Homo sapiens: one gene and its partners. Changing the gene in region 1 together with any one later gene gives a genetic interaction. Each region holds a gene or a part of one and is shown in the gene's direction. Other genes may lie near its edges. The genes, in order: STAC2, RB1 and KEAP1.

Region 1 (4,114 bases):
ACTTGAGCCTAGGAGTTTAAGACTAGCCTGGGCAACATAGCGAGACTCCATCTCTACAAAAAATTTTAAAATTAGCTGGGTGCAGTGGCATGTGCCTGTGGTCCCAGCTACTTGGGAGGGTTGAGCCCAGGAGGTCCAGGCTACAGTGAGGTGTGATCAAGCCACTGCACTACAGCCTGGCCAATAGAGCAAGATCCTGTCTCCAAAAAAAAAAAAAAAAAAAAAAAAAAAAAAAGAAGAAGAAGAGAAGGAGAAGAAGAAATATTGGAAATATCTTGAACGGGCACAGTGGCTCACGCCTGTAATCCCAATACGTTGGGAGGCCAAAGTGAGAAGATCGCTTGAGCCCAGGAGTTGGAGATCATCCTGTGTAACATAGCAAGACTTGTCTCTACCAATAAATTTTAAAAATTAGCCAGGCATGGTGGCGTATGCCTGTGGTCCCAGCAACTAGAGAGGCTGAGGTGGGAGGATTGCTTGAGCCTAGGAGTTTGAGACTGCAGTGAGTTATGATCGCACCACTGCACTCCAGCCTGGGTGAAAGAGTGAAACCCTGTCTCTAAATAAAAAAATAAAAAAATAAAAAATAGAAGGTTATTGTGGAGAGAGGGGCACCTTGGAAGGTGATGGTGAGGACCTCTTCCCCCACCTCTCTGTATTATCCCCTGATCTAACTCCAGTTGTGGTAGGATCTTTAGGAGGGGAGCGTGTCTCAGAGAAGTTTGGGGACTTTGGGTGTGAGGACTGAGCCCCCATCTCTGCTGAAGTTCAGACGCCAAGACTGGAAGGGGATAGAGTCATCCGGCTTTCCATCACAAGGAGGAATTGTCCGGCCTGGCCTTTGACACATACACCATAGTCCAGTTGTGTGTATATTTGGAGAGAGCCTTTTCAGGGTATAAAGGCATCCAATTAATGGCACAGATGGGTCCCCATTCTTCCTTCACCAACCTCTGGCATCTATCAATCTTCGCTCTTTGGAAGTCCTAGCTTCGATCTCACTCTCCGCTATCTTGCTGCGGCCCCAACCTATTTCTATTCCCTGCAACCCATCCAGACGCTACTATGATCTCCCCAAGCTTCCCTCAATCTGGTCACGCCCCTCCATCCCGGGTTTTTCAGTGTGAAACTCCCTCCTCCGCTTCTTTCCCCGCCAAGCCCCGCCCCATCGTGTCGAGCCCCCCAAGACTCCGCCCAGTTCGCCCTCCTGGCCACCGAGGCAGCCAATAGCTGAGAGCCTGATTTGCAGGGCTGCGCGGGGGAGCGGCGTAGGGCAGGGGGCGGGACCAGGCGACCTCCTAAATCAAAGTTGGGCGGCGAGGACTGGGCGGAGGGGCCGCCGGGTGCCGGGCTGGGGCCGGCGGGGGAGGGGAGGGGATGGGGGGCGGGCGCAGCGGACGGCGGAGCCGGCTGGACACGGACAGCTCCTTGGCTCCCTCCCTCGGCTCATCCCCGCGGCCCCACTTCCCTCCTCCCCGCGCTGCGAGCAGCATCCTCTGCAGACCCTCGGTCCTCGCGCCCGGGGTCGTCCCGCTCCTGCGGCTCAGCGTGGTGGCCTCCCCTCGCCCGCCACCCCGGCAACTTTCTCTGCCCGCTCCCGCGGGTTGGGGGCTGCCGTGCCGGGGGCTAACTGGGGGCAGCCTCTGGAGAACGGCTTCAGAGTCCCGGAGACGCCCGCCACCCGCAGCCTGCCCGCGGTGGGCCTGCCGTCGGATCTCGGCACCCTCTCCTCCCCTCTCCCCGAACCATGACCGAGATGAGCGAGAAGGAGAACGAACCGGATGACGCGGCCACCCACAGCCCCCCAGGGACCGTCTCCGCCCTCCAGGAAACCAAGGTAACTTGGGGGGCGCAAGGCCTGTCCGCGCCCCGGGCCCGGGCGCCCTCTTCCCGGCGGGGTCCTCCTGTGGGCCCGGGCGTCCTAGGGTCGCGGTCGCGAGGCCCGCGTGACCACTGAGGCTCCGCGCCGCTCCCGGGGGTAGGAGTGGGTTGGCGACGAGGGGCCACAAGGAGCCCCCGATCACACCGGCACCGCACGCCCGCGCGCGCCATCGCGACCTTCTGGGGAGGCGGCCACTGGTCTTCGTTGGAGAGATGGGCGCAGCGAGGCCGGAGGGCGCGCGTGGAGCGGTGCGGGCGGGGTACGCGCCCGGCTGTGCGTGCGAGGCGCACCCTCCAGCGGCCGCCGGGTCCCAGTCCCGGGCTCAGTCCGCGCCTCTATCCTCGCTCGTGTCTCTGAATTTGTCTCTACAACCTGCGTGTCTGTGTCTTGGTGTCTCTGTGTGCGTCTCTCCCCGTCTCTCCCGGCGTCTCCGGGTGTTTATCTCCGCGTCTCAGGGCGTCTCTCCCTGCCCCTCCGCAGTCCTGCATTCCCCGCTCCTAGCCCTGTTGGGCTCGGGGACGCGAGGCCGCGGCCGGGGGTGCGCAGCTGCGGAGTCCGCGAGGGGGCCTGCAGCAGCGCCGGCCGTCGGTCACGGGCGAGGACGGGGGCCTGCGGTTGTGGCTCCAGACCAGAAAGACAGGCAGCCCCGCGCCCCACCACGGGAGCGGGACCAGAGGAGGGGGAGCGGGTAGAAGCAAAAAGAGAAGTCATCGTAATTAATGAATGTCATCATTAACCCTAATTATGGATGATTGTTACTCCTGAGGGAGTCACCATGAATAAATTACTCCCCGCGAAGGCAGGCGGAGCCCAGACTCCTGGCGCTGAAAGGGGTGTGGGGAGGCCGCCGCTCACACTCAGCACTCCCCCGACCTCTAATCCGTCTGCTCCCTTCCCAAGTTCTAGGTGCTGGCGACTGGCCCGCGAGAAGTTCTGTTTCTGCGGGATCAACCTGAGCGGGCCTGGGGTTGGGATAGAAAGGGCTGTGCCAAGGGCGCGCCCTGCCACCTCCCAGACTTCAGGCCAAGACCTCCTCCCTCCCCCTTCACCCGGTATTTTGTTCCCATCCTGCTCCTGTTCTCCAGAGGCGAAAGGGGACAGTGAGGACCAGAAATGATGGGAGCCTGGGCTCCGGAGGCGTCCTGGGTTCGCTAGGCTTCTTTCCACTGTCCCCCTTCCTCCTTCTTCCATCTTGACCATCCCGCAGGAGCTGAGGTTAATTCAAGGTCAAGGTCATCAAGGGAGTGACCGGAGGAGGAGGCCGTAGGGTCAGGGTGGAGTCTGGCAGAGGCACCCCAGGGAGCCCCCATCCTGCACCAGGGGACCCAGCAGGTCTCCACATTCAAGTCTTCACATGCACACCTGACTCTCTCTTGCCCCCTTCTAAAAATGAGACTCTGGTCTGTGAGGCCAGAGCTGACTCCCCTTTAGAGAGCCAAGTCTCAGTCTCTCCTGGGAAAGGACTAAGATGTTTGGGTGGGAGGATATTGCTTGGAATATTTGTGACAACTTCTGTCAAGCAGAAGGTCTAGGAGCTGAACCTCCCCTGAGTTCCAATGCCCCTGATTTCGGTTGCCCTCTAGTCACCTGGGTAGACATACACAGTCCCCCTGCTTGCCTCCAGGGGCTTGGGGGCCTCCCAGGCCCTGCCCTGTTTCCCACACCAAGGCCTGTCCTCTCCAGCCTCCTCCTATGTGGGAGTGCTGGAAGGCGGGCAGGAGTGTGGGGTAGTGCTGCCTCAGTACTCCAGCAAGCTGCCTGCTCAGCTGTGTGGGGAGGGAAGGTCAAGGGCCACAGGTCTGTACCTCTCCCTCTTCCCAGGCCAGGGACCCTCCAATGTTGTCACCTCTGGGTCTGAGCTTGGAGATTCAAGGAGTAGGGGAGGGGAGGGGTTACACCCCTGATCCGGCCCTTCTGTGTCAGGCCAGCTGGAGCCCCGGCCCTCCGCCCCTCCCCTATACATCACTCTTGTGAAGGATTCTGCACTAACACAGACTGGGCTGTGGGTTGGGTCGGGGGTATTCAGCAGGGCAGAGGTGGGCAGAGAGAGAACTCAGGACCCCTGCTAGCCTCCTTCCATCCTGCACCTCAACCTGGCCCAAAGAAGCTCCTGTCTCCAGACTGTGGGTGGAGATGGAAGAGTACAGTTGGGTGCCGCCCACCAAGCTCAGTGTGAGGCAGGTACAACAGAGGGGGCCAATGCCCTTCAGGCAGTGATGCCAACATTCCAGG
Region 2 (3,647 bases), on another chromosome or scaffold:
ATTTTCATAAATAAACACTTTTGTTCAATTTAAAGTTAAAATGTGGTGTGTTTCTTTGGTCGGGGGAGAGGGATAGTGTGAGGTTAAGGAGAAGGAATGCTTATTTTAGATCACTATATACTGAAGAATGTAATTGGTCATTATAAGCCATTTAAGAGGCTTATTTGAGTTATTTGAGGCCATCTTGGGGATAATATTTCACTAGGCTTCTCTTCTGAGTATACTGGTATACTGAATCCAAAAAAGGTACTTTTTGAAATCCCTCCGAAGACCTTTGAGATTGTAGAGTGCCAAAGGAGTATTCAAGAGTGGCCTCTACTGATATGGAAGCACTGCTGTAACCTCCATGGTTATGAAACTAAAGATTGAAGCTAGAATCCACTGGATAAACAGAACAAAGGCCAATTACAATGTTTTTAAAAACATAAATGTATATCACTTTGCAAATTATGTTGCAAATGTTAAAAGAAAGTTTTGCTTGCAGAAACAAAAGGAACATTTGTATAAGGATGCAAAACACAGAAAAAGAGGAACTTTTAGTTTCCTTATTAGTAAACAGATAAGGAAAACTGTGAATCCTCATTTATAACCAAGAAATGCATATTTTAATGAGATACCATTTTGTAACTAATGAAATTAGCAGAATCTTGAAGAATCTGTCTATCCTCTTACCAAGGATTAATGAGAATTAAAATAGATATGCCAATGGCTGATAAGATACTAAACCTGTTCCTGATATAAGTTTAGGGTATTTAAATCTTTGAAAATTTGAGATCAGCTATAAGTCCTTTCTCTAGGAAAAACACAGATTTGCTTACACTCAAAATTGGAAGGCTATTTCCTATGAGTCCGTAGACTCCAAAATAAAAAATTCTGCTCTAAATAAAAATGGTTTAACCTTTCTACTGTTTTCTTTGTCTGATAATAACTTCCAAAAAAATACCTAGCTCAAGGGTTAATATTTCATAAATAGTTACTTTTTTTTTTCATTTTTAGGAAGTACATCTCAGAATCTTGATTCTGGAACAGATTTGTCTTTCCCATGGATTCTGAATGTGCTTAATTTAAAAGCCTTTGATTTTTACAAAGTGATCGAAAGTTTTATCAAAGCAGAAGGCAACTTGACAAGAGAAATGATAAAACATTTAGAACGATGTGAACATCGAATCATGGAATCCCTTGCATGGCTCTCAGTAAGTAGCTAAATAATTGAAGAAATTCATTCATGTGCATATGGCTAACAAATTATTGTTAGTGAGAGGTGTTTCTTAACATCTACCTCAAGAACATATAGGGAATTTAATGAATAATGTTATTTCAGTCTATAGCCCAAGGATCAAGTGGAATATTAGAATGGAGCTTTAATCGAGCACCCTAAACCATCTAATACAGCACAGTGATTTATTTAAGAATAGCTTTTCTTAAAACATGCCACTTTAAAACAAAACGGATTTTTTTTTTATACTTTAAGTTCTAGGGTACATGTGCACAACGTGCAGGTTTGTTACATATGTATACATGTGCCATATTGGTGTGCTGCACCCATTAACTTGTCATTTACATTAGATATATCTCCTAATGCTATCCCTCCCTCCTCTCCCTACCCCATGACAGGCCCCAGTGTGTGATGTTCCCCACCCTGTGTCCACGTGTTCTCATTGTTCATTTCCCACCTATGAGTGAGAACATGCAGTGTTTGGTTTTCTGTCTTGGCAATAGTTTGCTCAGAATGATGGTTTCCAGCTTCATCCATGTCCCTACAAAGGACATGAACTCATCCTTTTTTATGGCTGCATAGTATATATGTGCCACATATTCCATGGTATATATGTGCCACATTTTCTTACTCCAGTCTATTATTGTTGGACATTTGGGTTGCTTCCAAGTCTTTGCTATTGTGAATAGTGCCACAATAAACATACGTGTGCATGTGTCTTTATAGCAGCATGATTTATAATCCTTTGGGTATATACCCAGTAATGAGATGGCTGGGTCAAATGCTATTTTTGGTTTTAGATCCTTGAGGAATCGCCACACTGTTGAACTAGTTTACAGTCCCACCAACAGTGTAAAAGTGTTCCTATTTCTTCACATCCTCTCCAGCATCTGTTGTTTCCTGACTTTTTAATGATCGCCATTCTAACTGGTGTGAGATGGTATTTCATTGTGGTTTTGATTTGCATTTCTCTGATGGCCAGTGATGATGAGCATTTTTTCATGTGTCTTTTGGCTGCATAAATGTCTTCTTTTGAGAAGTGTCTGTTCATATCTTTCACCCACTTTTTGATGGGGTTGATTTTTTCTTGTAAATTTGTTTGAGTTCTTTGTAGATTCTGGATATTAGCCCTTTGTCAGATGGGTAGATTGTAAAAGTTTTCTCCCATTCTGTAGGTTGCCTGTTCACTCTGATCGTAGTTTCTTTTGCTGTGCAGAAGCTCTTTAGTTTAATTAGATCCCATTTGTCAATTTTGGCTTTTGTTGCTATTGCTTTTGGTGTTTTAGTCATGAAGTCCTTGCCCATGCCGATGTCCTGAATGGTATTGCCTAGGTTTTCTTCTAGGGTTTTTATGGTTTTAGGTCTAACATTTAAGTCTTTAATCCATCTTGAATTAATTTTTGTACAAGGTGTAAGGAAGGGATCCAGTTTCAGCTTTCTACATATGGCTGGCCAGTTTTCCCAGCACCATTTATTAAATAGGGAATCCTTTCTCCATTTCTTGTTTTTGTCAGGTTTGTCAAAGATCAGATGGTTGTAGATGTGTGGTATTATTTCTGAGGGCCCTGTTCTAAACCAAAACAGAATTCTTTAAAGTATTTAGATAATTTATTTAAAGTACAGTTGTTATATATTTGAAAATGCAAATGTCTGCTCTTAAATTGTGAGATTATGCTATTTAGATTATTAAAAAGTGCATTTTTTTCTTGTTAAATATAGTAGGATTCATTTTTTCCCATTATTAAAGTATAAAAATGTATACTATTGTTCAATTATAGGTATTGGTTCAATCAATATAGGGGCACAAATTATATTGTCTAGGATTCTCTTTATAGCATTATAACTATTGATAAGGCTTTTGTTTTAATAAAAGTGGCAACTTGAGGTTATGCTCTTCAAATCAACATAGTTGGATAATACTTTGTGAATCATCAGTTTTGTAAATTAATGGTTTCTTTTGAAACTGTGTTGCATGCTAAGTATATATCTTTTAATTTGTATCAGTATATAGAAGTGGTAATTAAAAAATTAAGACTTTAGGTATGCCATAATCCTAATTTGCACATGTAACCTTAGTTTTAATTTCCTTACGTTTTGAATTTTTAATGACTAAGCGATAATTTATTTCTTAGTGTTTTCTTGTATTGCCATATAGACAGAGTGAATAGAGGAGAGAAACATGGGAAATTGATAGAAGAATGTTACACTCCTATTATTGAATTTCATAACTACTTATGGAATGAATTTACACTTGATAAGGAGTACTTAGAAGAAAACTTTCTGAATCTGGGTAATTAAGTGAAAGTAAAAATAAATAGATAAGTAAATAAAATAAGCACATAGAGTACTTTTTAAAGGCTTATGTGTCCTCTCCTCCCAGAAATTGATATTGAGATATTCCTGTATCATCTGAAAGTGACTATTGTTATTT
Region 3 (3,647 bases), on another chromosome or scaffold:
CGAAGGTCAGCTATAATGGCCATTGTCCCCATTTTTCTTACGCCCTTGCAGGTATGAGCCAGAGCGGGATGAGTGGCACTTGGTGGCCCCAATGCTGACACGAAGGATCGGGGTGGGCGTGGCTGTCCTCAATCGTCTCCTTTATGCCGTGGGGGGCTTTGACGGGACAAACCGCCTTAATTCAGCTGAGTGTTACTACCCAGAGAGGAACGAGTGGCGAATGATCACAGCAATGAACACCATCCGAAGCGGGGCAGGTGGGTGGGGACGGTAGGGAGGGGAGCACCCAGGAACACCCCCTACCATCCTGGGGTGAAACTGAGCCAGGCCTGGGAGAGACCCCCTGTTGCAACCCTCATGCTGGGGTAACCACAGAAGCCCTGGATTCTGATAGAGTCCAAGCTTCTCTCTCTCCCCGCTTCATTTCTGAGGGTGAGAAGGGAGAGGAGAGAGGAAAGGTCTCCCTCAAGGAGGTGATGGCTGGGGTTCCCAAAGCCAGACCCCCAGAGTCACCTTCTCTGCATGGTGCCCTTTAGGCGTCTGCGTCCTGCACAACTGTATCTATGCTGCTGGGGGCTATGATGGTCAGGACCAGCTGAACAGCGTGGAGCGCTACGATGTGGAAACAGAGACGTGGACTTTCGTAGCCCCCATGAAGCACCGGCGAAGTGCCCTGGGGATCACTGTCCACCAGGGGAGAATCTACGTCCTTGGTGAGGCCCTGGGGGCGGGGAAGAGTCCTGACTAGCCCATCTTTTGTGGACTGCTTTTGCTTTTGCTTTCCTTTTTTTTTTTTTTTTTTTTTTTTTTAGAAACAAGGTCTCGCTCTGTTGCCCAGCTGGAGTGCAGTGGTGTGATCACAGCTCGCTGGAGCCTCAACAGCCTGGGCTCCAGCCATCCTCCTGCCTCAGCCTCCCAAGTAGCAGGGACCACAGGCGCGCACCACCACACCCGGCTAATGTTTTTTTTCTTTTGAGATGGTGTCTCACAGTGTTGCCCAGGCTGGAGTGCAATGGCATGATCTCAGCTCACTGCAACCTCCACCTCCTGGGTTCAAGCGATTCTCCTGTCTCAGCCTCCTGAGTAGCTGCGACTACAGGCACATGCCACCACACCAGGCTAATTTTTTGTATTTTAGTAGAGACAGGGTTTCACCATGTTGGCCAGGATGGTCTCGAACTCCTGACCTCGTGATCCACCTGCCTCGGCCTCCCAAAGTGCTAGGATTAGAGGCATGAGCCACCGCGCCCGGCCTGTTTTGTTTTTTGTTTTGTTTTGTTTTGTTTTGTTTTTTGAGACAGAGTCTCAGTCTGTTGCCAGGCTGGAGTGCAATGGCACGATCTCAGCTCACTGCAACCTCCGCCTCCTGGTTTCAAGTGATTCTCCCCCATCAGCCTCCCAAGTAGCTGAGATTACAGGCGCCTGCCACTATGCCCAGCTAATTTTTGTATTTTAGTAGAGATGGGGTTTCACCATGTTGGTCAGGCTGGTCTTGAACGCCTGACCTCAGGTGATCTGCCCACCTCAGCCTCCCAAAGTGCTGGGATTACAGGTGTGAGCCACCGCGCCCAGCTTAATGTTTTTGTTTATTTTTATTTTATTTTATTTTATTTTTTTGAGACAGAGTTTTGCTCATGTTGCCCAGGCTGGAGTGCAATGGCGCAATCTTGGCTCACTGCAACCTCTGCTTCCCAGGTTCAAGTGATTCTCCTGTCTCAGCCTCCTGAGTAGCTGGGAATACAGGCACGTGCCACCACGCCTAGCTAATTTTTTTTTGAGATGGAGTTTCACTTTCGTTGCCCATGCTGGAGTGCAATGGCTCGATCTCGGCTCACTGCAACCTCCACCTGGCAGGTTCAAGCGATTTTCCTCCCTCAGCCTCCCGAGTAGCTGAGGTTACAGGCATGCGCCACCACGCCCGGCTAATTTTGTATTTTTAGTAGAGAAGGGTTTTCTCCATGTTGGTCAGGCTGGTCTCGAACTCCTGACCTCAGGTGATCTGCCCGCCTCGGCCTCCCAGAGGGATGGGATTACAGGTGTGAGCCACCATGCCCGGCCAATTTTGATTTTTAGTAGAGACGGGGTTTCACAATGTTAGCCAGGCTGGTCTTGAACTCCTGACCTCAGGTGATCCACCTGCCTCAGCCTCCGAAAGTCCTGGGATTACAGGCATGAGCCACTGTGCCCGGCCTTTATTTTATTTTATTTTTATTTTTTTATTTTTTGTTTATTTATTTATTTATTTATTTTGAGGTGGAGTCTTGCTCTGTCACCAGGCTGGAGTGCAGTGGCACAATCTCAGCTCACTGCAACCTCCGCCTCCCGGGTTCAAGCGATTCTCCTACCTCAGTCTCCCAGGTAGCTGAGATTACAGGCGTGCATCACCAATCGCATCTAATTTTGTATTTTTAGTAGATACAGGGTTTCACTCTGTTGGCGAGGCTGGCCTCGAACTCCTGATCTCAGGTGATCTGCCCGCCTCGGCCTCCCAAAGTGCTGGGATTGCAGGCATGAGCCACCGCGAGTGGCCTATTTTCCTATTTTTATTTATTTATTTTGAGATAGGGTCTCACTCTGTTGCCTAGGCTAGAGTACAGTGGTGCAGCCTCTGCTCACTGCAACCTCTGCCTCCCAGACTCAACTGATCCTCCCCACCTCAGCCTCCCTAATAGCTAGGACTACAGGCGCGCACCACCAAGCCTGGCTAAATTTTTATGTTTTTTTGTAGAGATGGGGCTTCACCATGTTGCCCAGGCTGGTCTCAAACTCCTGGACTCAAGTGATCCACCCACCTCAGTCTCCCAAAGTGCTGGGATTATAGGCGTGAGCTACCAAGCCTGGCCATTTTTTTTTTTTTTTTTTTTTTTTAGTAAGAGACTAAGGTTTTGCTATGTTGCCCAGGCTGGCTTCGAACTCCTGGCCTCAAGCAATCCTCCTGCCTCAGCCCTGCAAAGTGCTAGGATTATAGGCGTGAGCCACCACGCCCGGCCTGCTTTTGCATCTCACAGCTGCATCTCTCTCTTTCTGTCCCCTGCTCTTGGATGTGGTGTGACAGGTGGTGACCATCCCTTCTGTTCTTCCCGCAGGAGGCTATGATGGTCACACGTTCCTGGACAGTGTGGAGTGTTACGACCCAGATACAGACACCTGGAGCGAGGTGACCCGAATGACATCGGGCCGGAGTGGGGTGGGCGTGGCTGTCACCATGGAGCCCTGCCGGAAGCAGATTGACCAGCAGAACTGTACCTGTTGAGGCACTTTTGTTTCTTGGGCAAAAATACAGTCCAATGGGGAGTATCATTGTTTTTGTACAAAAACCGGGACTAAAAGAAAAGACAGCACTGCAAATAACCCATCTTCCGGGAAGGGAGGCCAGGATGCCTCAGTGTTAAAATGACATCTCAAAAGAAGTCCAAAGCGGGAATCATGTGCCCCTCAGCGGAGCCCCGGGAGTGTCCAAGACAGCCTGGCTGGGAAAGGGGGTGTGGAAAGAGCAGGCTTCCAGGAGAGAGGCCCCCAAACCCTCTGGCCGGGTAATAGGCCTGGGTCCCACTCACCCATGCCGGCAGCTGTCACCATGTGATTTATTCTTGGATACCTGGGAGGGGGCCAATGGGGGCCTCAGGGGGAGGCCCCCTCTGGAAATG

Evidence for each region.
Region 2: changes in STAC2 (region 1) and RB1 together harm fitness more than expected from each alone (negative genetic interaction), as found in Homo sapiens cells (one large-scale study listed by BioGRID).
Region 3: changes in STAC2 (region 1) and KEAP1 together harm fitness more than expected from each alone (negative genetic interaction), as found in Homo sapiens cells (one large-scale study listed by BioGRID).

What each region holds. Positions count from the first base shown.
Region 1 is NC_000017.11:39,223,136-39,227,249, reverse strand, and holds the start of STAC2 (SH3 and cysteine-rich domain-containing protein 2), read left to right. Parts: upstream 1-1,304; 5' UTR 1,305-1,747; coding exon 1,748-1,837; intron 1,838-4,114. UniProt on the Homo sapiens protein: Plays a redundant role in promoting the expression of calcium channel CACNA1S at the cell membrane, and thereby contributes to increased channel activity. Slows down the inactivation rate of the calcium channel CACNA1C.
Region 2 is NC_000013.11:48,380,251-48,383,897, forward strand, and holds part of RB1 (retinoblastoma-associated protein), read left to right. Parts: intron 1-996; coding exon 997-1,193; coding exon of another isoform or gene 1,194-1,205; exon of another isoform or gene 1,206-3,647. UniProt on the Homo sapiens protein: Tumor suppressor that is a key regulator of the G1/S transition of the cell cycle. The hypophosphorylated form binds transcription regulators of the E2F family, preventing transcription of E2F-responsive genes.
Region 3 is NC_000019.10:10,486,258-10,489,904, reverse strand, and holds part of KEAP1 (kelch-like ECH-associated protein 1), read left to right. Parts: intron 1-51; coding exon 52-257; intron 258-536; coding exon 537-713; intron 714-3,086; coding exon 3,087-3,253; 3' UTR 3,254-3,647. UniProt on the Homo sapiens protein: Substrate-specific adapter of a BCR (BTB-CUL3-RBX1) E3 ubiquitin ligase complex that regulates the response to oxidative stress by targeting NFE2L2/NRF2 for ubiquitination.